3 linked regions of the Homo sapiens genome follow. The protein of the gene in region 3 interacts with the protein of the main gene of each other region in a biochemical or structural test. Each region holds a gene or a part of one and is shown on either strand. Other genes may lie near its edges.

The links. The genes of interacting proteins can lie anywhere in the genome.
Region 1: the proteins of CD6 (region 3) and LGALS3 form a complex in vitro, tested with the Homo sapiens proteins (one study listed by IntAct).
Region 2: the proteins of CD6 (region 3) and ALCAM form a complex in vitro, tested with the Homo sapiens proteins (4 studies listed by BioGRID and IntAct).

Annotation. Positions count from the first base shown.
Region 1 is NC_000014.9:55,124,421-55,132,269, forward strand, and holds the start of LGALS3 (galectin-3), read left to right. Parts: upstream 1-4,831; 5' UTR 4,832-4,880; intron 4,881-7,849. Other genes in the region: uncharacterized protein LOC124903319, read left to right, coding at 630-684. UniProt on the Homo sapiens protein: Galactose-specific lectin which binds IgE. May mediate with the alpha-3, beta-1 integrin the stimulation by CSPG4 of endothelial cells migration.
Region 2 is NC_000003.12:105,530,895-105,537,926, reverse strand, and holds part of ALCAM (CD166 antigen isoform 1 precursor), read right to left. Parts: intron 5,926-7,032; coding exon 5,861-5,925; intron 4,325-5,860; coding exon 4,237-4,324; intron 3,265-4,236; coding exon 3,082-3,264; intron 1-3,081. UniProt on the Homo sapiens protein: Cell adhesion molecule that mediates both heterotypic cell-cell contacts via its interaction with CD6, as well as homotypic cell-cell contacts. Promotes T-cell activation and proliferation via its interactions with CD6.
Region 3 is NC_000011.10:60,974,649-60,981,680, reverse strand, and holds part of CD6 (T-cell differentiation antigen CD6 isoform 1 precursor), read right to left. Parts: intron 1-7,032.

The DNA.
Region 1 (7,849 bases), on a different chromosome or scaffold from region 3:
TTTTTCTATCAGCCAAGGGTCTAGAGAGAGCTGGGAGCAGGCAGATTGTGAGTTATTTGCGCAAGAGGGCTATGTGTCCTGGACCATGAAGAAAGGCAGACTTATAGCTTATCTGCCTTTTTTTTTTTTTTTTTTTTTTTAGACAGAATCTCACTCTGTTGCCCAGGCTGGACTACAGGCACCTGCCACCATGCCTGGCTAATTTTTGTATTTTTAGTAGAGATGGGGTTTCACCATGTTGGCCAGGCTGTTCTCGAACTCCTGACCTCAAGCGATCCACCCATCTCTGCCTCCCAAAGTGCTGGGATTACAGGCGTGAGCCACCGCGCCCAGCCTGCTGTCTCTTTTTGCTTTCCCTTGATCCCACCAGCCCAATTCTCCACTTCCCCCAGCCCCCAATTAGGACTCCACAATTCTCCCAACTCCACTTAAGGTGAGAGGTCATGAAGTGCTAGCTCGGTTGCCGGGCCACTTTATGAGGATGGCAGGGAGGGGATTCTGAGAGGAGTGGACAGGAGGTGCCCCATGGGTGTCTATGCTGGCACAGGTCCCTGTTGCAACTCACAGTGTTATTCTTGCCATTCCCACTTTCTCGGATCTTTACAAGCCTGCCCCTACTCCTTATTTAGGTCTCAGCTCAAATACCACCTCCTTGGAGAAATCTCTGCTGACCACACTTGCTGAACTGACAGCCAGCTCCTCCCCTGCCCTTCTCTGATATGGGATGAATTGTGTCCCTCTCTCTTTGCAAAAACATTTATGTCAGTACCATCCGAGCCCCGGATACGTCAGAATGTGACTGTTTTTGGAGATAGGGCCTTTAAGGGGGCAATTAAGTTAAAATGAGGTCTTAATCTAATACGAATGTGTCCTTCTAACAAGAGGAGATTAGGACACAGACAGGCATATAAGAAAGACCATGTGAAGATATAGAGAGACGTAAAAGCCAAGGAGAGAGGCCTCAGAAGAAACCCACCCTTCCAACATCTGATCTTGGACTTCTGGCCTCCAGAATTGGGAGAAAATAAATTTCTGTTATTTAAGTTACTCAGTTCCTGGTGCTTTGTTATGGCAGCCTTAGCAAGCTGGCACACTCTCTATCCCTTTCCCTGGTTTTATACTTCCTCAAGAGGCAGGTTAATGCTGTAGCGTGGTTAAGAGCGTAGCCCTGGGTGTGGCTGCAATAAGGGCAGTAGTAGTGGCAGCAGCCACTTCCTGTCTATAGACAGAAGTGACTGGTGGGAATGTGGGTTTGGTGATGGCTAGTGCTGAAGACAGGCCTGGGTTAGGCTTGAAGGACAAACAAGGAAGGTTAGGCTGAGGTGGCCAGGGCTGAGGTTGGGCTGGAGAAGGGGTTTTGCACCTGCGGTGGCACCTGGGACACCTCTTCTCCCTGATGCTGTTGGCCTGCCCATCCAAGGCAGGAGGGGCTAGCTCCCTTCTAAGCAGGTTCTGGCTCTCACTCTGTCCCAGGGGGCTCTAGTTGCAACCCAGGTGGTAAGACCTTGTAAACCATCATTGGGCACATTACTGCCACCAACCCTATTTCATTTGTTGACCAGGTTTTGGTGAGCCTGTTCATTCAGCAAGCTAGAAGGGGTGGATTTTGCAAAATAGTTGAGGCATATATTAGGCCCCCACTAAAGGCCTTGGATATGAGTAAGTACATATAGATAACTGGGACTAGAAACAGCAGACAGCCACAGTCATTTCGTTCTGAAACTGGAAATTACTTTGTCTTCAAGGCATAAATGGTTCCCCAGAACACTCAGCCTCTCTTTCAGTCCCTAAGTCTGCCAGCCACCCAGATTCCAGTTGTTGGCACCAGAAAGACCAAGTGCCCTGAGGCCTGACTCAACTCTTCACTTGTCACCCAGATGTGTTAACACCATGTAGACACAGAATTGCCAAACTTGCCTGGGCTGCCCAGGGTCCAAATGTGAAAACTGGAAAGCAGCCGCTTTGCTCTTTTCTGGCTGTTCCTGTATTCTGCTGTCTACACGACTTAATACCAAGATTTTTGTTTATATTTCATAGGAACTTCAGCTTTTGTGAGACATTCTTTCCCTATCTGGCCCACTGTAGTGCTAATTTCTGGGAAATTTCTCTCCTCTTTTCTGGCTTGTTCCAGGTTCACTCACTTTTTATATTTTCATAATTCTTCTATTCTCCTCTCTTTTTCCTTTCTCTCTGGTTCTATTTTCCTATTTAAAAGGTGACTTTAAAAAACTGGCTTTGCTGCCGGGCGCAGTGGCTCACGCCTGTAATCCCAGCACTTTGGGAGGCTGAGGTGGGCAGATCACCTGAGGTAGGGAGTTTGAGACTAGCCTGACCAACGTGGAGAAACCCCATCTCTACTAAAAATTGGCCAGGGTGGTGGTGCATGCCTGTAATCCCAGCTACTGGGGAGGCTGAGGCAGGAGGAGAATCACTTGAACCTGGGAGTGGAGGTTGCGGTGAGCCGAGCAAAACTCCGTCTCAAAAAAATAAAATAAATAAATAAATAATCGGCTCTGCTTTCTTCTCCAATTACTGTCTTTCTTTCTCTTTTCTGCTTATCCTTAAAGACTTTCCCTTTTTGTTCTCATCTTCATCTCCTACTCTCTTCTGGCTCTAACTGAAGTTCTCACGCAGCTTCCCTCCTGACCTTCTGGACAGCCACCTGCTTTCCCAAGTTTCCTCCTTTCCCTCCTGTGGAGATGCCTCTCTTAGAATCCTTGCTTTTATCAGCGGCTTACAATCTCTGCATCCGTAGAAACCAGACAGCCTTTTTGTTTGAGGGCTAACACTTGCCTTGTCCCTATTTCAAATAACACAGTGAGCTGTACATAGAAGTTACTCAATGATATCTTAATTGATTTTATTGGGTTCCTTTTTACGCTTATCTTAGAAAAGGGATGTGACTTTGGATTGGGTAATAAAGAGCCGTTTATTGCATGTGTACAAATTATAAATTCCCAGGCACACCCTGATCATAGCAGGATCCTTTTGTTAGCTTTATGGGGCATGAAGTTGGCACCAAAGTATTCATGGGGATGTACAAGTAAGGAAGGGAAGCCAAAAGCATGTCTGATCATACAATCAGGTGTAAGCAAGCCCCCTAAGTAGCCAGGGCATGAACTTTGTCTATCTCTGAAATGACCAGAAGAAAAGGCAAGAGTGTGATTCATCCCTTGCCTCCACAGCAATTCATTTGGCTATCTACTTTTCTTATTACCAATGGCTAACCCTCTAAGGGTACCACTCCTGGCCATGAGGCCTCATGACTCAAAGTCTTAAGATTTATAGCATTTTCCCTGGAGACCAAGGGCATTCCTTTGGGTGATACCTTTTTACTACCCAGAGGTTAGTCATTTACTATGGGTGATCCATTCAAATAAATTGGTTGCCAGGCTACCTCTTCAGATAAGAGTTCAAACTTGCATAAATAATCCCCAGCCACACTGTGACTTCTATGTGCAAGCCTAGAGGGGACGATGTTGCAGGAACCGTGCCAACCACTAAGACACTTTCAAGTTTATCCTAGAGAATGCCAAGACAGCTTCTCAATTCCATCAAGTGAGTCCTTCACAGGAACATTTCCCTAAGTTGAAAAACTGCAGGAAATAATTTATCTTTATGTTATTAATTGGTTACTATAAGGGCTACAGGAATTATTTAGGAACCAGATGATACCTGGTTTTCTCCATAGTTTACATAAGCCAGTCCCTGCAAAGATTCTTCCCCTACCCCCCTTAATTTTTTTTTTTTTCCTCAGAGATCCTTGTTCCAACCTGCAAGGATTCTTTGGCCTGGTGCTTTTCCAGGTAAAGTGTAAGAGCCAGGATTTCTGGATTTTGTTCCTAGACATGAGTGAGCTTGGATAAGTAAATCATTTTCTCTTTTAGTCTGTTTGGGCTTCTGTAACAAAATATCATAAACTGGGTAGCTTATAGGCAATATACATTTATTTCCCACAGTTCTGAAGGTCGGGAAATCCAAGATCCAGGCCAGCAGATTTGATGTCTGGTGAGGGCCTGCTTTCTGGTTCACAGAGGGAGCCTTCTGGCTGTGTCTTCACAAGGTGGAAGTGGCAAGGGGTCTCTCTCCGGCCTCTTTTATTAGGGCACCAATCTCATTCATAAGGACCCTGCCCCTATGACCTAATCACTTCCCAAGGCCTCCACTTCCTAATACATCACCGTGAGGGTTAGGATTTCAACATATGAACTTTGGCGGGATATAAACATTCAGACTATAGCACCCTGACAGTAAAAATGAGATAATAATACTTATCTCTTTCTTCCAACAAAAAGATAAGGTGAAGTTAAAAGGAGGGTATATATATATATAATGTGAATTTCCTGTGTAAAATGTGTTAAAGAGTTGTCTGATTAATTGCTTTATAAGGGAATTGCTTTGAGACTAGGCCTATTGATCTAGAATAAGTAGTCAATTTGTAGTCAGTTCCCTAGGGAATAGACATTGAAAAGATTTTTGGTTTTGTATTCTACAAATAAAGCAACCTATTAATTGAATTCCTCTCAGCGAATTCTTCACTCAGGTGATTCTGGAGAGGGCGGGGGACAGACGCGGCCGCAGCCCAGGTCCCGGGAGCGCCACGGAACCTAACGGTGGCAGCGGAGGTCGCGCCCCTCAGTGCCCGCGCTCTCCCCGTCGGGAGCTTCCTGGTCGCCCCTGCGGCGGCGGCTCGGGGTGTCTGGCCGGCGCGGGGCTCGCCCAGCCTGGTCCGGGGAGAGGACTGGCTGGGCAGGGGCGCCGCCCCGCCTCGGGAGAGGCGGGCCGGGCGGGGCTGGGAGTATTTGAGGCTCGGAGCCACCGCCCCGCCGGCGCCCGCAGCACCTCCTCGCCAGCAGCCGTCCGGAGCCAGCCAACGAGCGGTGAGCTGCGCGGGGCGCGGGGGACGCGGCTCCGGCCGGGCAGGGGAGAGGGCGCCCGGGCGCTGCTTGGGGCGCGGTCCGGAGAGGGTTCGGCTCCCCGGGACCGGGCCGGGGCGCGCGCGGAGAGCCCCACAGCCTGTGCTCTGCCCTCCAGGAGCGGGGCGGCGGGCAGCGATCTGGGCCCGGGGCAGTCGCCTTTGATTATCGAGGGCGCTGGCGTTCGGGGAAGGTTGGCAGCACCTTACGAGACCCACACACGTCCCCGGGGCGGCACGGGCCACCTTCTGCGGAGCCTCGTGGGCTTCGCCGCCGTCGCACCTCCGCCGCCTGCGCTCTGCGGCCCCAGAGTAAGCCCCATCCGGTGACGAGCCGCAGTCTGGTCACCCCAGTCCCACCAGGTCCCGCTGCGAGGGGAGGCGGAGGGGCTCGCTCAGCAAACCAGACGGCCGCTCCAGTTTCTCTAATTGGGGTTGGAGCCCCGTCACCCTTCCCCAGATCACGGCCGCGGGGGAGCGAAGGGACTTCCCAGGACTGCATAGGGCGCCTCCCGGGACCCACAGCTTGGCTGGCCCGGCCCCTTTTGAGCATCAGCTGAGGCTGGACTTGGAGGAGATCTCGCTGTGGAGCGCGAATGAGTTCTTCCACCGGGACCAGCTGCGGCCGGGCTGCAGCCGCTGTCTGGTTGCTGATCCCACAGAAAATGGTGCTTGCCCCATGGCCTGAGTGGGCATGACCCGGCTTTGCAAAGACTGCAAACTCTAAGCTTTTCCGAATCAAATGCCCCTCCCTGCCCAGACTGTCTGTGCCCAGGAAATGGTGGGTGTGGCAAAATGTTGGTCCTAGCGTGCAGAGCCCTACCGGGGGGCTTTCACAACATGTTTGAGAGTTTATTCTGAATTATCGGGTGCTCAAATAGAAACACTAAAACGATTGCCCTCTGAGCAGTAGGCGTTCAGGTCCAGGGAGTCGGGGACGCATGGTGGAGGCTGGGACTTAGGTTTCAGCCTTACCCTTCAAGTTCGCCATGCGGGTTCCAGAGACTGCGGAATGTTTGTAAAGTGACTCTGGGAATTGGGTTGCTGCGCAATGAGGACACCTGGACCTCAGTGACTCAGGCTGTCTCTAGGATTCTGGGGAAGAAATGGGAGAAGGCTCAGTTAATTCTGAAGAAAATGAGACTGATACAATTAACTACTTGGGCACAGGGCCTGAGAAGAAAAAGCTTTCGTCAGCTTCCAAAGTTCTGATTTGTTTACCTAAGGTTTTTTTTTTTTTTGAGACGCAGTTTCGCTCTTGTTGCCCAGGCTGGAGTGCAACGGCACTATCTCGGCTCACCGCAACCTCTGCCTACCGGGTTCAAGCGATTCTCCTGCCTCAGCCTCCCGAGTAGCTGGGATTACAGGCATGCGCCACCATGCCCGGCTAATTTTGTATTTTTCGTGGTGGTGGTGGTGGGGGGGGGGGGGTCCCTCCATGTTGGTCAGGCTGGTCTCGAACCCCCGACCTCAGGTGACCCGCCTGCCTCGGCCTCCTAAAGTGCTGGGATTATAGGCGTGGGCCACTGCGCCTGGCCTACCTCAAGTTTATAAACATTTCATACTAGGAAATTGTGTGTTTCCATAAAAGGTAAAGTTGAATAATGATCATTTACTTTTCTACAACAATAGTCTCCCTTTTAGACATTGACTCTCAATCCTTAGGGTAGGGTCTCTCATTCTAAAGATGATCATACCCCATCCTTGATCTTTGGGGGACTTAAGCAACTTCCTAAATTCATAATATTTAGAGGTGATGTTTAAAATCAGCACTTAGTCCAGATTCTGGGGAGAAGTTTGATGATGGTCCTTGAATATTTAGCACTTAGAAGTGCTAGGAGGATGCCTCACTAAGTTACGTAAGAAGCAGAAGAGGACGAGTACCGCCTGATGGATTGACCCCGAAAACTAGCTGTGTCCAAGTAGAATAGGTGTCTCGCTCTGTTAAGCGGTCTTTAAACTATGATAGTTCGCTGTACTACAAATATGCATAGGTGCTTTACAAAGACTTTTCACTTAGTGAGGTCAAGAGGCTAATGCTGGTCTCATGTATAATTTAGGTACCTTTTTACATAGAACCCTCATTAGCCAGACTCTAAACCTTAACTGCAGCCAAGACCTTTGTTCATGTAGTATGCCTTCAGAATCTCGTGTTGACCTTAAATGCCAAGTGGCTTGTAAACTTATGTACTTGATACTTGTGGTAACTGATCTCAAACATAGCTCTTCTTTCCTGTGATCGTTTGGGACACAGGCTCCCACTCAAGGGTAGCTCCTTGTGTCTGGTGCCTGAACTGGATCTTCTCATTAAATTCTGAGTGGGTAACTTAAGAACCAGTCTAGGCTGTGCTTGCTGTATACTTCCAGTTCGCTATTGACCAAGTGTCATGTGTTCTCTTTTGAACTGTTCAGCTTTTCCGTAGGGGGGAAGATCAGTCATGAGAAGCAGAAAGTAACTCTACCTTCCTTGATGCCAGGGAGCTATGATGAGAAAGAAATCCTAGGAAAGGACCAGTTCCCCTTATTCCAACTTAGCATCACTGAATTTGTCTTTGGCAAATGGGCTTTCCTCAAGTCCTGCTCTGTGTTTCAGCAAGGACAGGAAGTAGACTGCCTCTTGTGTTACTTGAGGAGCAGTGTAGGGCAGTGCCTAGGGGCTCAGGAAGTAGTCTTCTTCTGTGACGGTTGCGCACAGGTCAGGGACCTTTATGAGCAGACATTTCAGAAGTGTTCCTGGGAACCCAGACAACTGGACTGATTGCTGGGTGGGCCTAGAATAGCATAGTGCAGCGGATAGCTACTCTTTGTTAAAGGGAAAAGCTACCAATTAACAGCCGATTAAAATGGTCTGTATTCTAACTCATGTTTAAATTCCTTATTCTGAAGCTACACTGAACTGCTTACTGTAGGTGTTTACAAATGTGGAGACCCAGC
Region 2 (7,032 bases), on a different chromosome or scaffold from region 3:
TTTCTTTTCATGTATTTATTTATCCTACAGTCCTTCTTCATTTATTCATTTGTTTGGCATCTATATTGTGCAAGCCTTAAGTGCTGGAATTAGGAAGTTGAAAACCCTGCCTCAATGAACTTTTCCTCTATTTGTAAAGACACCAAACTTAATAATTAAGAGTATGACCACATAAAACCTGCATATGACACAAGCATAGGGATCCTGGTAGCCATCATTACATGAGACTAGGAAGCTTCCTGGAGGAACTGACCCTGGAGCTGGGTTTTGACACATAAATGGGTATTTGCTAAATGATAAAGGTGGGAAAATGACAGCATATGCATAGGCATGTAAGTATTACTCTACAGAAGGAATCTGGAAAGTAGAACAGACCACAGTGGATACAGGCAGTGATGAGGGTTGAGACATACTGTAGGACCATGGCTAAAACGAACTCAAGGCATACTGCAATTGGGGGAGGGGGAAGGATATTAATCTGAGAGCTCTGGGGAGTCACTGAGAAGTTTTTGTCACATTTGTGTTTTAGAAAAATATTTCTGGCAGCAGTTTGGAGGGCAGTTTATTTGGGGGTGAACAGAGAATGGTGGGCAGACAAGAGAAATACTATTTTGCAATTCATTGGAAAAATACTACTTTGAAATCCATCGCAGGAATAGAGGCAATGAGGAATGGTGGCATAAACGTAGGCAGTGTCAGAAGGCAGAAATCAGATCAAAACAAAGATTAAAGAGCTAGATTCTCTAAAACCTCGTTACTGATTGAATAGGGTAAGAAAGGAGTGGACTGGTGCATTTTTCTCAAGCTTTCTCAAGATGAATTGGCCAATTTTTTTTTCTTGAAATGGACTCGTCTCTCCTTTCCATTTAGCACTCTTCTTCTGTTCTCTGAAGTCTTCCTAGAGCAGTGGTTCTCCACTCGTAGTCCTCAGATCAGCAGCATTAGCACCATCAGGGAATTTGTTACAAATGCAGAGTGTCAATCACCGTCCTATACCCACTAAATCAGAAACTCAAGGCCAGGGTGCAGTAATCTGTGCTCTAACAAGTCCTTCATGTTCTTCTGATTTACACTACAGTTTGAGAACCACTGTCCTTGGGCACCTGAGCCCTCAAGACTCTTAATACTGAGTTCCTAAGACTTTTACCCTTACAACCTTGCATTGGCAATTTCCTTCTGATGTAGGTGTCTTGTTTCTCTACTGGAGTAGTACACTCCTTGAATGTGAGGACTGTCTTAAACTGCTTCTTTGTGCTTCGTGTTTTCACCATGAAGCCCACTGTGGCTTCTTAAAAGCCATGACAAGTGCACCTTACACAGCCAGCATGATAAAATCATTTTCTTCGTATCCATTCAAGAACTTCTCCGTCTACCCAACTCTGCATGCCTCATACTCACAGATATTTCTATTCTTTCTGAAGCCAATTTCCCAATTCTTATTACTTATCTTGATGTTCTCTCCTGTGTTGTACACCTACACTTACACTAATATGGTTTATTTCCAATTGAATATTTCTAACAGAAAGAATTCTGGGCCGGGCTTGGTGGCTCACACCTGTAATCCCAGTACTTTGGGAGGCTGAGGTGGGCAGATCACCTGAGGTCAGGAGTTCGAGACCAACCTGACCAACATGGTGGAACCCCACCTCTACTAAAAATACAAAAATCAGCAGGGTGTGGTGGCATGCGCTTCTAATCCCAGCTACTTGGGAGGCTGAGGCAGGAGAAGCACTTGAATTCAAGAGGTGGAGGTTGCAGTAAGCTGAGATTACGCCACTGCACTCTGGCCTGGGCAACAGAGTGAGACTATGTCTCACACAAAAAAAAAAAAAAGAAAGAAAGAATTCTGCCTTCACCTAAAAAAGTTTGATTTTAGATAAGCTATACATAATGAAATATTAATTTCTTGGGTTTAAATCAAGTTGAAACTTATTTCCCAAGTTTAAGGCAAAACTACCTTTTAATATTAGGGCAACTTTGGAAGAATTTCACTTTTGTTCTCATATAAGATATTGTGCCCTAGGGAACCAAAAAAAGAAATGTAGGTGAGGTGATTCTTTCGAAAGGCTCAGCAGGCATTCCTGGCTTTTCTCTAAAATAGATGTAGAAGTGCTAGGTTACTGTAGAACACATGCCAGTATCACAAAAATTTTAGATAAATTAATAATAAGAAGAAAATCCTTTATTGCATTTTCCCCCCAAATATCTTCAGCTCTATGTTTATATTGTGATAATGACCATATAATAATAATAATAAAGTACTTAATAATGACAATTTAATGTGTGATGTAGCATGCTATTTTTGATTTGTGATTTCACTTACTCTCTATAACAACACTATCAGTTAGGTATTATATTTTTCCCATTTTAAAGTAAGAAAACTGAGATGTAGAGTAATTAAGCTACTTTTCAAGAAATGGTAATTGATAATGCTGGGACTAGAATTCCAGAATTTTTGCTTCTAATCATTAGATTATCTTGGCACCTGTCTTACAAGGAAAGCACAGCAATGGAGAAAAAGATTCTATTCTAATATCTACAGCTAATTTAGGGCAAGACTCTGTGCCTCACTTTACTAACTAAAATAATGAAGTTAGAACAGATGACCATGAAGATTCCTTTGTAGACAAATACTCTGTTTCAAATACACAATTTAGTTAAGTAAAATGTCTTGTAATACAACATCCTATCAAACTTATGCAATTGATCTTATTATTAAAATAAATTTCTTCATTAAAATGGTAATCTCTTATTTAGAAAGCCAGTTAAAGTCTATATTTGTCTGTCATTCATCCAGAAAATAAGTTATAGATCTTATCTTTAAAGAACTTAGTGTGTAGTGGAATTCAGAAGAGACACTCATAGATAAAATGTAGAGAGTGAAAGATATTATAGGATGGATAAATGTTTATTCATGCTATGGTCTCCTAAAGAGGAAGAGATTATTTGGGTGCCATCAATTTGGGGTGCAGACTGGAAGCAGAATTCAAAGAGTAATTGGATTGGGACCTCAAAGATTAATAGCATTTGAATATTATTTCTAATACATTAAATAGCATAATTATATATTGAATTACTTACAGTAAATATCAAATACTGCCTGTTCAGAATGAATTGTTTTCTGGCCAGATGGTCCATAATATGTCACCGAGCAGGTGAATGGCATTTGTATGTCAGCCTTGGTTGTCTTGTACTCCAGGGTGGAAGTCATGGTATAGAGCTGAGTCACTGGGTCCATTTCCTTTTTAAAAATTATGACCACCGCTGAAGAAAATAAAGAACACTGATGATAGGGTCTTTCATCTGACAATCACAATCCTTAACGAAACAGCACCACACCTTTGAGAAGTGTTTTTTTTCCTTCTAACTGTATTCAGCAGGAGAGAAAATTGACATGTAGTGAGGTTAGATGTCGTTTCAAAACCGTGAATCAGAGACACAGAAATAGAATCCTGGAATCCCTTTTCCCACTCACTTAATTAACTTCTAGATCATGCCATATACAGAAATTATTTCCTCTGCTCTTGATTCTTCTGTACAAGGGCTGAAAATGATGTTTAAAAAATCATGTATTAATTTAGTACATACTTAAAGTAACAGAGCATAAGAGTCATAGCTCAAAAGAGGGCAACATATTTAGATCCTGAATAGTTTAAAGCGGGGGTCTCCAACCTCCAGGACTGGTATGGGTGCAAACAGCAGGAGGTGAGCGGTGGGCAACCACAAGAAGCTTCTTTTGTATTTACAGCCACTCCCCATGGCTCACATTACTGACTGAGCTCCTTCTCCTGTCAGATCAGTTGTGGAATTACGTTCTTACAGGAATGCAAATCCTGCTGTGAACTGCACATATGAGGGATCTAGGTTGCATACTTGTTATGAGAATCTGATGCCTGATGATCTGTCACTGTGTCCCATCACCCCTAGATGGGACTGTCTAGTTCCAGAAAAACAAGCTCTGGGCTCTCACTGATTCTACATTATGGTGAGTTGCATAATTATTTTGTTATATATCACTATGTAATAATAATAGAAATAAAGTACACAATAAACCTAATGCCTGTGAATCACCCTGAAACCATCCCCCCACCCTGATCCAAAGAAAAATTGTCTTCCATGAAACCAGTTCCTGGTGCCAAAAAGGTTGGAGACCACTGGTTTAAAGAATACCTAGAACAAAGAAAGTCAGAACAGGTCCTCTGAATGTACTCCCTGTCCTCCTGCCCTCACACCCACCTCCTTCAAGGGGATGTAGCACTTTTCCATTCCTGTACCATGTGATATTGCCATCTGGATAACTGTCTTCTGAAATGCAGTCACCCAACTGCAAAATAAAAAGGCAATGTTATTACCTTGGTTCAATCAGGGGCTGTCAATTTGGAAACTCCAGAAACTCAGGCAATGCAGAGTTATTCCAAGGGTTTCTTGACCCGTTTATTTTCCAACACTGACCAAAGACTGAATACATGCTCTCTGGTATAAAAACAATGTCTTTTTAAGACCTTTTTAACAATTTATTTGAAAATATACTTTTGACGATTTTTAAATGTGCAATAGATGGTGTCACTATTATAAAATCACATTCATTTGAAAGCATTGCCAAATTCATTTTGACACTATTCATTTTTAACATTAACCAAATAACATTACTCTATTAACACTGACTATTACCATGAATCATAGATCTTCATACGGAAGAATAATTTGGTGTTAAAATGGGGCTGTGTCTCCAGTTTCATACTACATATATTTCAAGAGGATATACATTATCATGCTCTATAATTCCCCTCACTTTCTTTAAATGTATTTTAACTTTAATATTTGGTATTCATCAAATAATTTTATGCAGTAAAATTTAATATGACACAAAGAATGTAGGACTTGGGTTTCCATCTCCCAACAAAGGAAAACTTTGGTATTTTAGTTACATTATTATTCAATATGGAACTCCAACTTTGTCCCCCACTTTAATACAGCTTCCCTTCACATATCTGCTAATGTGTTGTTCGAATCTGATCTCACCTCTTTACTTCAATCTTTCAGTAGCATAATTTGCCAACAGAATAAAGTCCAAACTCCCTATTTAGTATGTAAGATTTGTCATGATCCAACTTTTCTTTGCCTCTCCAGATTCATCTCTTTCTATCCTTTCTTGTTTTCTGTCTTGGCACCCAGTTTCATCAATGCCAAAATTTGCTGTTTCCCAAACACACCGTTCTCTTTCACATCCTATTATTTCATATTGTTGGAAAGCCATTTCTACCTTTGGCTTGGTGAAAATCTATTCATCTTTCATCATTCTCTCTATATATTTTTTCTACACAGGGTCTGGCTCTGTCGTCCACAATGGAATGCAATGGTGCAAACATGGCTCACTGCAGCTTTGACCTCCTAGGCTCAAGCAGTCCTCCTTACCAAGCATCAGCCTACCAAGCAGCTGGGACCACAGGCATGTACCGCTATGCCCAGCTAACTTTTAAATATTTTTTATAAACAAGGTCTTGCCATGCTGTACATTCCTGGGCTCAAGTGATCCTCCCACCTTAACCTCCCAAACTGTTGGGCTTACAGGCATGAATCATGCTAACTGGCTTCATCCTTCTATTAAACAATCCATTAATTCAAATGAGAAAGACTCCTCTTTTCAGAAATGACCCCACCTTCCTTGATGTCCTCATGGTTACCTGAGACTGTGAGCATGTTGTACCCTCTGTGCCTTGTAGATAATTTCTGATTGGTAGCTGCAACACTGTCATCTCCACAAGAGCAAAGCCTTTCTTACTTGTCTTGGAATGTAAGGTCAGAAGAAGGCACTTACAACACTGGCTAAATAAAGGTATTAATCAAAAACAATTCTTACCTTTTTTAGCTGCTCTGTTTCGAGAAACAGTGCTTTGCTTACAATTTCAGGTTTAGATGGTTGCTCTAAAGTTAAGCAGAGAAAGATTTTAAGTACATATGTAAGAAAAACGGGACTTCTGTGATTTGATTCACAGCAAAAACAATTCATTTACTCAATACAGAAGAATAAGCAACAGAATAAAAATAGATTTCGTTATACAATCTGGATTTGGGGAATCTATAGGTCTACCCCTTCAAATATTTATTATCTTAAATATTATTTTCAGTGCTTGTAATTCCTTTGAATAAAATATAAATAATGCTTTCTGAATGCTTTATAAATAGTGAATATGGATTTGATAGTGAAACAGGGGCTAATGTCCTATATAGGATATATTGTCTCTAATTGATTACCATGAGCACTTCTTACTTATCAGTAACTTCCAGCTCATTAACTGAAGACATTAATTTACATGAACCAGAATCACAAAGATACTTGTTTAAAATTCAGATTTCTGAGCCCTATTTGGCCTACTGAATCAGAATTCCTGAAAAAAAAAAATCCCATAACTCTACATTTTAAACAAGTTTCTAGGGGATTCTCAGTCACCATAAAGTTTGAGAAACACTGTTCTAAAATCATGGGAAATAGAAAGCAAGTTAAGGAATTTATAAACCCAAATTTCTGAAATATCTCTAACTTTACCTCTTAAGCCAAGTCACAATATGAAAGTGTAAATGTGAGAAAATCTTTCAAATGTGGAACCTGAGATGATGGACAAAAACATTTTAAATATAGGTAGTTCTAAGAAACATAAATTTTAATAAAGACTTCAGGAGCAATTGATTAAAAGTTGCAGCAACAATTTATTATTTAAACTGATTTTAAGTTATTTTATTCTTAGCTGCTATTTTCTATCAATGATGGATTTTGCGCTTTTTAAATAGCTCCAACAATTAGTTTACACAAAAAGTATATTGCCTCATTGTCACTGATGTTTGTGAGTCTCATGGACCAAAATTATTCTATTTTCTTATAAGCAAATGTATTTAAACAATCAGCTACTTTTTCTTTTATAGTCTTATTGTTTACCACCTAATACTTTTAATTTTGATTACCAAACTAAACTAAATTGGCTTTTGTATAATTATTACTCAATTTGGAATTCAGTTATTAGACATGTTACCTCC
Region 3 (7,032 bases):
CCCGGTCCCAGTCGGAGCAGCAGCTGTGGCCACAGGTCTCTCCTAACACCCTAAGGAGCCTGGCATTTCTCCAAGCATGTCACCGCCAACATCTGGGGAGCCCCACACAGCTCTGAGCTCCCGTTGGCCCTGCTTTACAGCCGGGGAAACGAAGGCTGGGCATGGCCACTCAGCCTGAAGGAGGAGAGCTCAGGCTCCATAAAGTTCCATGACGGCCCAGCTGATGGTGGGTGAGGTGAAAAGTCCCTGGGGGAAGGGCGGACCTTTCCTGCAGGAGTCTTGAGTGGGGAGGGGTCCCCGGCCCAAACCCTACCCAATTCCAGGGCTGGGAAAAAGCAACGGATTTGGAGTCATGAGGTAAAACCAAGTATCTGTCATCTATTAGTGGTGCGATCTAGGAAAAGTCACTTTATCTCTCTGAGCCTGTCACTTACTCAGTAAAATGGAAGTATTAAATAGTAGCGCATACCTCCTTAGGGCTGTGACGAGGAGAAGGCAGGTTTACGTATTTGCAGAGTGCTGCACTGGAGGACGTGATCCTTGTACTGCCTGCCTAACACTTGTAAATGTACATTTTGTGGCGCACCTTCCGTGGGCCAGTCCCTGTGCTTGGCGCTCATTGAATCCTCATGGCACACCAGTCTGGGTCAGGAGGCAGAAAAGAGCCTGGACCTCAGCTCCTTTGGGAATTTCAGTCCTGCCTACCCAACATGACCCAACAGGACCAGCCGGACTGGCTGGTCAGCACCTCCCCTCAGCCGGGCCCTCGTAGGCTGTCCCACCTCCAGGTTTCTGCTCAAATGGGTCTTTCTTTCAATTTAATTAATTAATTAATTATTTTGAAACAGAGTCTCACTCTGTTGCATAGGCTGAAGTGCAGTGGTGCGATCTTGGGTCACTGTAACTTCCGCCTCCCGGTTTCAAGCGATTCTCTTCCCTCAGCCTTGCGGGTAGCTGGGATTACAGGTGCCCCCCATCCCCCGAACCACACCCGGCTAATTTTTGTATTTCTTTACTAGGGACGGGGTTTCGCCATATTGGCCAGGCTGGTCTCGGACTCCTGACCTCAAGTGATCCGCCCTACTTGACCTCCCAAAGTGTTGGGATTACAGGCGTGAGCCACTGCACCCGGCCTTCAAATGGGTCCTTCTTTCTGAAATACTTTTTTTTTTCTTTTTTGAGACAAGGTCTTGCTCCGTTGTCCAGGCTGGAGTGCAGTGGTGAGATCATGGCTCACTGCAGCCTCAACCTCCTGGGCTCAAGTCATTCTCTGCCTCAGCCTCCCGAGTAGCTGGGACTACAGGCATGAATCTCACATCCGGCTAACTTTTTAATTTTTTGTAAACGTGGGGGTCACACTATGTTGCCTATGCTGCTCTGGAACTCTTGGACTTCGGCCTCCCAACGTGCTGAATTACAGGTGTGAGTCACCAGAAAGGGCTGAAATCCTTTTTTCCCCCTTAACTTCTTATTTTCAAACTATGGACTCATAAGAAGTTGCCAAAATAGTGAAGAGAAATCCTGTGTACCCATCAGTCAGCTTCCCCCAGTGGTGACATATCATGACATGGATTTAAATTCAGCATTAGCCACCAACCTGGGACAAAATACATAACTTTCTGAGCCTCAGTTTCTCCACCCATAAAAAAGGGGTGATTGTCCTGGTGTTGTCAGGGTGGAACAGCATATGCATAGCTGGTGCTTGGAGAATATTAAGTCCCTGGTAATGGGTGGTGGTTGCAGCTGTCACTGGATTGTGCCTGTTGCCACACCTATCCCGGGGTGGTGCTGGTGTGTCTTACCACAACACTATAAACTGTTCAAGGGCAAACCTTCATGTCCTATGGCAGTGCCAGCACAGGGCCTGGTACTCAGCAGGTACTGAATGAATATGAAAATATGGAGCCTAGGCCAGGCACAGTGGCTCACACCTGTAATCCCAGCACTTTGGGAGGCTGAGGCGGGCGGGTGGATCACCTGAGGTCAGGAATTCAAGACCAGCCTTGCCAAAATGGTGAAACCCCGTCTCTACTAAAAATACAAAAAAATTAGCTGGGCATGGTGGTGGGTGCCTATGGTCCCCTTACTCGGGAGGCTGAGGCAGGAGAATTGCTTGAACCTGGGAGGCGGAGGTTGCAGTGAGCTGAGATCGCAGCATTGCACTCCAGCTTGGGTAACAGACTGAGACTCCGTCTCAAAAAGAAAAAAAAAAAAAAGAAAACAAAACAAAATATGGAGCCTGCTGCCCAGCAAGCTCTCCCCTGGCTCATGGTGCCTCTTTAATTTTGCCTTCCTGCTGGCCCCAAGGTGCAGGGCAACCCCCAGGCAAACCCCATGAGGGCGTGCCATGATGAGGGAGGCAGCCACACTTGACCCCATCTGTTGCTAAGAAGACTTCCAGGGTCCCTAGGACCTCAGAGGTCCCTCAGGGCTGTTCCTAGATTCAGTGGTGAGGCTGCAAGGCTAGGAGTTTGCATTTAGGGGAGAAACCCTATGCTAGAATAGAGCCCACAGGACAGCTGGCTGGAAACAAGCCAGGCAACTCCCACACAATGGAAAAAGCACCAGCCTGCTGGCTGGGAGACCCAAGCTCAGGTCCTGACAAGTCTCTTAGCCTCGCTAAACCTCAGTTTCCTCATCTATAAAATGAGGTCACCATGTGGGTGATGGAGCTCATTGTGCAAACAGCACTATGTTAACCACCGAGTCCTGTATTCACATAGGCAAGGGATTATCTTTGGTCTTGCTGTAGAGCATTTATAAGCTAACATTTCTGAGCACTGCATTTTGTTCGGCTATTTTCAGATGCATCATCTACATTAACTTGTACACTTTGGTGAGTTGGGGATTTTTATCTCTAGCATGCAGGCAAAGAAACCACCCTGGGGCCATGCAGAGATGCAATTCAGAACCCGCGTCTGCCTGACTCCGGGGTCCATGATTCTATACGACAGGATGCCGGCTGGGGTTGATACAGTGCCCTTCCTAGGGCTAAGTGTCTAGTGGCTGGGTCTCTGCTGCGTACAGCCAGATGCCCTGCTCCATAACCTGTAAAGCCTCAAGGAACATACATAAAGTACAAGCATGTTTAGGCTGGGTCCTTAGTGTTCAATTTACCCAGTTTTCCAGAAAGGAAACTAGGGCCAGAGAAAGGAAGGAACTTGACCAAGATTCCCCAGCAAGTTAGGACCAGAGCTAGTTCTCAAAGTCCACACCCACCTCACCCCTCCTCAAGGTTCCTTCTCCTCCCCAGGCTGCAGGGGCCTAGATTCCCAGAGCGGAATCAAGGGAGGTGAACTCGGGTGCCCCCCAACCTCAGGGCTCACTGGGAAAATCCAGGGACTTCTCAGGGTACTGGGGAGCCCCTGAAATGGGGGTCTCATGTGTAGGACGTAACCCCAGGCTGCAGAGCAGTCAGCGTCCCCAGGCTCAGTCTTGTCAGGGGACACCATGCCCACCCCCTTTGTCCTTTCTCTGGATCAGTGTTTTCAAAGTCTAGGGCACATACACAAAACTATGCAAAATTGATTTAGGTGGTCATTGACTTGGCATTATATACCACTATATTACATGATGAGGAAGTTATGCATACTCTTTATTTCCCTTTCAGCCTTTCTAATTACAGACTTGGAGGAGGAAATCTCCCATGGGGTTAGTCTTTAAAGTCTCTCTGACATCTACAGCCCTCCCTTTTGAGGAAAGGGAAAGCAGCAAATGCATCTGGCTAGAATTTAGTAACATTGTTTTATTTCCATTATGTTTATTTTCACCATTATAATCATGATGGTGATTTATAATGAATGGCTTTCCATTTAAGGGAGTGATATATAAAGTTTCTTCTCAAAATAAATGTATTTGCATTTTAAAACATCAATTAAGAAAGAGTAGCCAGGCATGGTGTCAGGCGCCTGTAATCCCAGCTATTTGGGAGGCTGAGGTGGGAGGATCCCTTGAGCCCAGGAGTTTGAAGCTGCAGTGAGCTGCACCACTGCATTCTAGCCTGGGCGACAGAGCGAGACTCCATCTAAAAAAAAAGAAAAGAAAGAAAGAAAAAGGAGGGAAATTACGTTAAGTAAATTGTCAGGTGGATGACACCTTGGCCAACACTGGGAAGGTGGGCTGGAATAAAGTGCTCCGGGAAGAGCTATGCTGGATAACTTACCATGCTCTGAGTCTGGAGAAGGGCCAGTGCCGAGGACAGGATGGAGGGCCTGGAGGTCTTGCTAGCTGAGGAAGTAGATACAGCCTGGGGATCCCAGCCCTACCAGGGGGCTGCTCAGGGCAGGCCTGAGCACATGGCATGGATGTTAAAGCTCATGGTGTCCCATCTGTGGTCCAGGCAGGGAGAGGATGGCCACGCACCTGGGAGGTCTACACTCCAAGCTCCTGTCCTAAAGGACAGTTGGGGCCACCTGTTTATTCCTCCTTGCCCCAGGGAGAAGTCTGATTCCTTAACTCAGAATCTAACAGCTGGGTACTGAATTTAATTCTTGAGTGTTCTATAAATATAATAAATAAAGCCTTAATAAATGTGGTCTGAATGAGGAGGGCCATGGGCAGCATTTCTCACTCATTCTAGATCCCTCTGTAAAGTTCGAGCTCCAGCACCCTAGGAGCTACCCCGTTCCATGGCCCCAATACGGTGAAGGCCACGCTAACTGTCATCAGTCATTGACCTGTGGCCAGAGAGCCAAGCTAAGCCGGGAGAAAGATGCAGAAGCCTGTCATAAATTATTTATGTATCTATGAGATGAAGTCTTGCCAGGCAGGAAGAATGTGAAAAGAGGTCAGAATAGAAAAGTAAACATGTGTGTTTAATTCAGTCCAATCAAACAATAAGGCCAGATGCACGGCAGATGTAGGGGATTAGGTTTGTATAACTTGGATTCAGAGTTCATAGGTCAAGGAGCCAGCCCAGTTAGAGGGCACGGACTATCAAAAAGGGCACAAGCGCATCCATCAGCAACACAGGGGAACCATATCTTATGTTTTGGCAAAACAACAAAAACACCGACCTCAGCTCAGTCCACTGAGATGGAAAAACTTCAACCTGCTTGGCATAACCCAAGTTACCTGCAATGGCGCCATTGTTTCCTCCTTGGTAAGTGGCTTTTAAACCCAGGAAGATTAGAATTTAGAAAATAGAGATGATTAAATAAACAAACACTCATAGTATATATCCAATGGTGTTAAATGTAAGTTGGGTCAAGCTCCGTGAGTTGCATAAAGTCCTATATTTGTGATATTTAAAAACATTTGGCCATTGAGTTCCTCATGAATGTGAGCAGGTAATTGACTTAGGTTCAATTTTGAAGTAGAAAATTTAAGAGAATTTGACAATATCTGTAAACATTAGAATATTTAAGAGAACTTGATATTCGCTTTAATAACTCAGAAACAGAAAGTCAAACACCACATTCTCACTTATAAGTAGGAGCCAAACAACGTGCACACATGGACATACAGAATGGAGTAACAGACATCAGAGATTCCAAAAGGTGGGAAGATGGGAGGGGAGTGAGGAATGAAAATTACTTATTGGGTACAATGTACAACACTCCAGTGCTGGGTACACTATAATCCCAGACTTCACCACTACGTAATATATCCGTGTAACAAAACTGCACTTCTACCCTCATATCTATAAAAATTTTAAAAATAACTTAATATTCACTTCACTTATGCTAGTTTTTTAGTTCTAAAAGCATTTTCTAAAATTCTTGGGAACATTTTGTTTCATGCTCTATAAAATATGGAATTCATCATATTTATAAATGTGCTTAGAATATCAAAAGCAGTGTTATCCAATATAAATATGATGCAAGTTACGCATGTAATTTTAAATATTCCAGGACAACCCTCCCCCTACTTTTTTATTGAGACAGGGTCTCCTTCATCGCCCAGACTGGAGTGAAGTGGCACAATAATGGCTCATTCATTGCAGCCTCAAACTCCCGGGCTCAAACCATCCTCCTACCTCAGCCTTCCGAGTAGCTGGGACAACAGGCTTGTACCACCACTTCAGGCTAATTTTGTATTTTTTGGAGATACGGGGTTTTGCCATGTTTCCCCAGCTGGTCTTGAACTCCTAGGTTCAAGCGATCTTCCTGCCTTGGCCTCCCAAAGTGCTGGGATTACAGGTGTGAACTACCACACCAGACCAGAAACCCCATTTTTAAAAAGTAAAAAGGAATATGTAAACTTAATTGTGATAATAGAATTCATTTAGCCCATCATATCAAAAATATTATAAGTTCGACATATAAATCACATAAAATTTGTTGAAATATTTTACATTCTTTCTTGAAACTCATCTTCAAAACCTGTTGCATATTTTACACTTTACACATCTCAATTTGGACTATCATCACATTTTAAATGCGTGATTGTAGGGGCTACCCTATGGAATAGCACAGAACCAAGGGAGTTTGATTAGCTACATTTGTAAGGGTATTTATTATTTAAGGATGCTAGGTCTGTTCAACTTCATTTGCTCAAATATTAAAGGCCCATCGAAAGTCATTAATCAAAATTACAGGGCTTATAAAATAAAATATGATTAGTATGTTGAACTCACAAGTTAAGAAAAAACAAATTATTAAAAAATTGTTAATTAAAGAATTACTATTTTTTTCAAAAGTAGCCACAAACAGCCTTTTCATACACAAAGGCAGCCCTCGAGGACCTCGCCAGCCAGAGCACAGCTGGCATTAGAGTCACGGAGCTCAGCACTGCCCTGGCGGGAAAGGCCTGGGGCTTTGTTACTGCGTCATAGTGTCAGATCTGGACAAAAGCTTTCTTATAGATTGTCTGACAGAGCACCCCCCTTCCACTGATGAGAAAACATGGCTGAGAAGAAAAGAAGCACAGTCAATGGTGAATTAGAGACGGGACCAGGGCAGAACCTGGGGTCTCATGATGCCACCCCAGCCTCCCCTGTCAAGGGCTCCTAATTCATTCTCTCTGTTCCTTCATCCTTAGTTGGCTGATCAGGAAACTGAGGCGGAGAACTGGAGGCTTGAATCTCTAAGC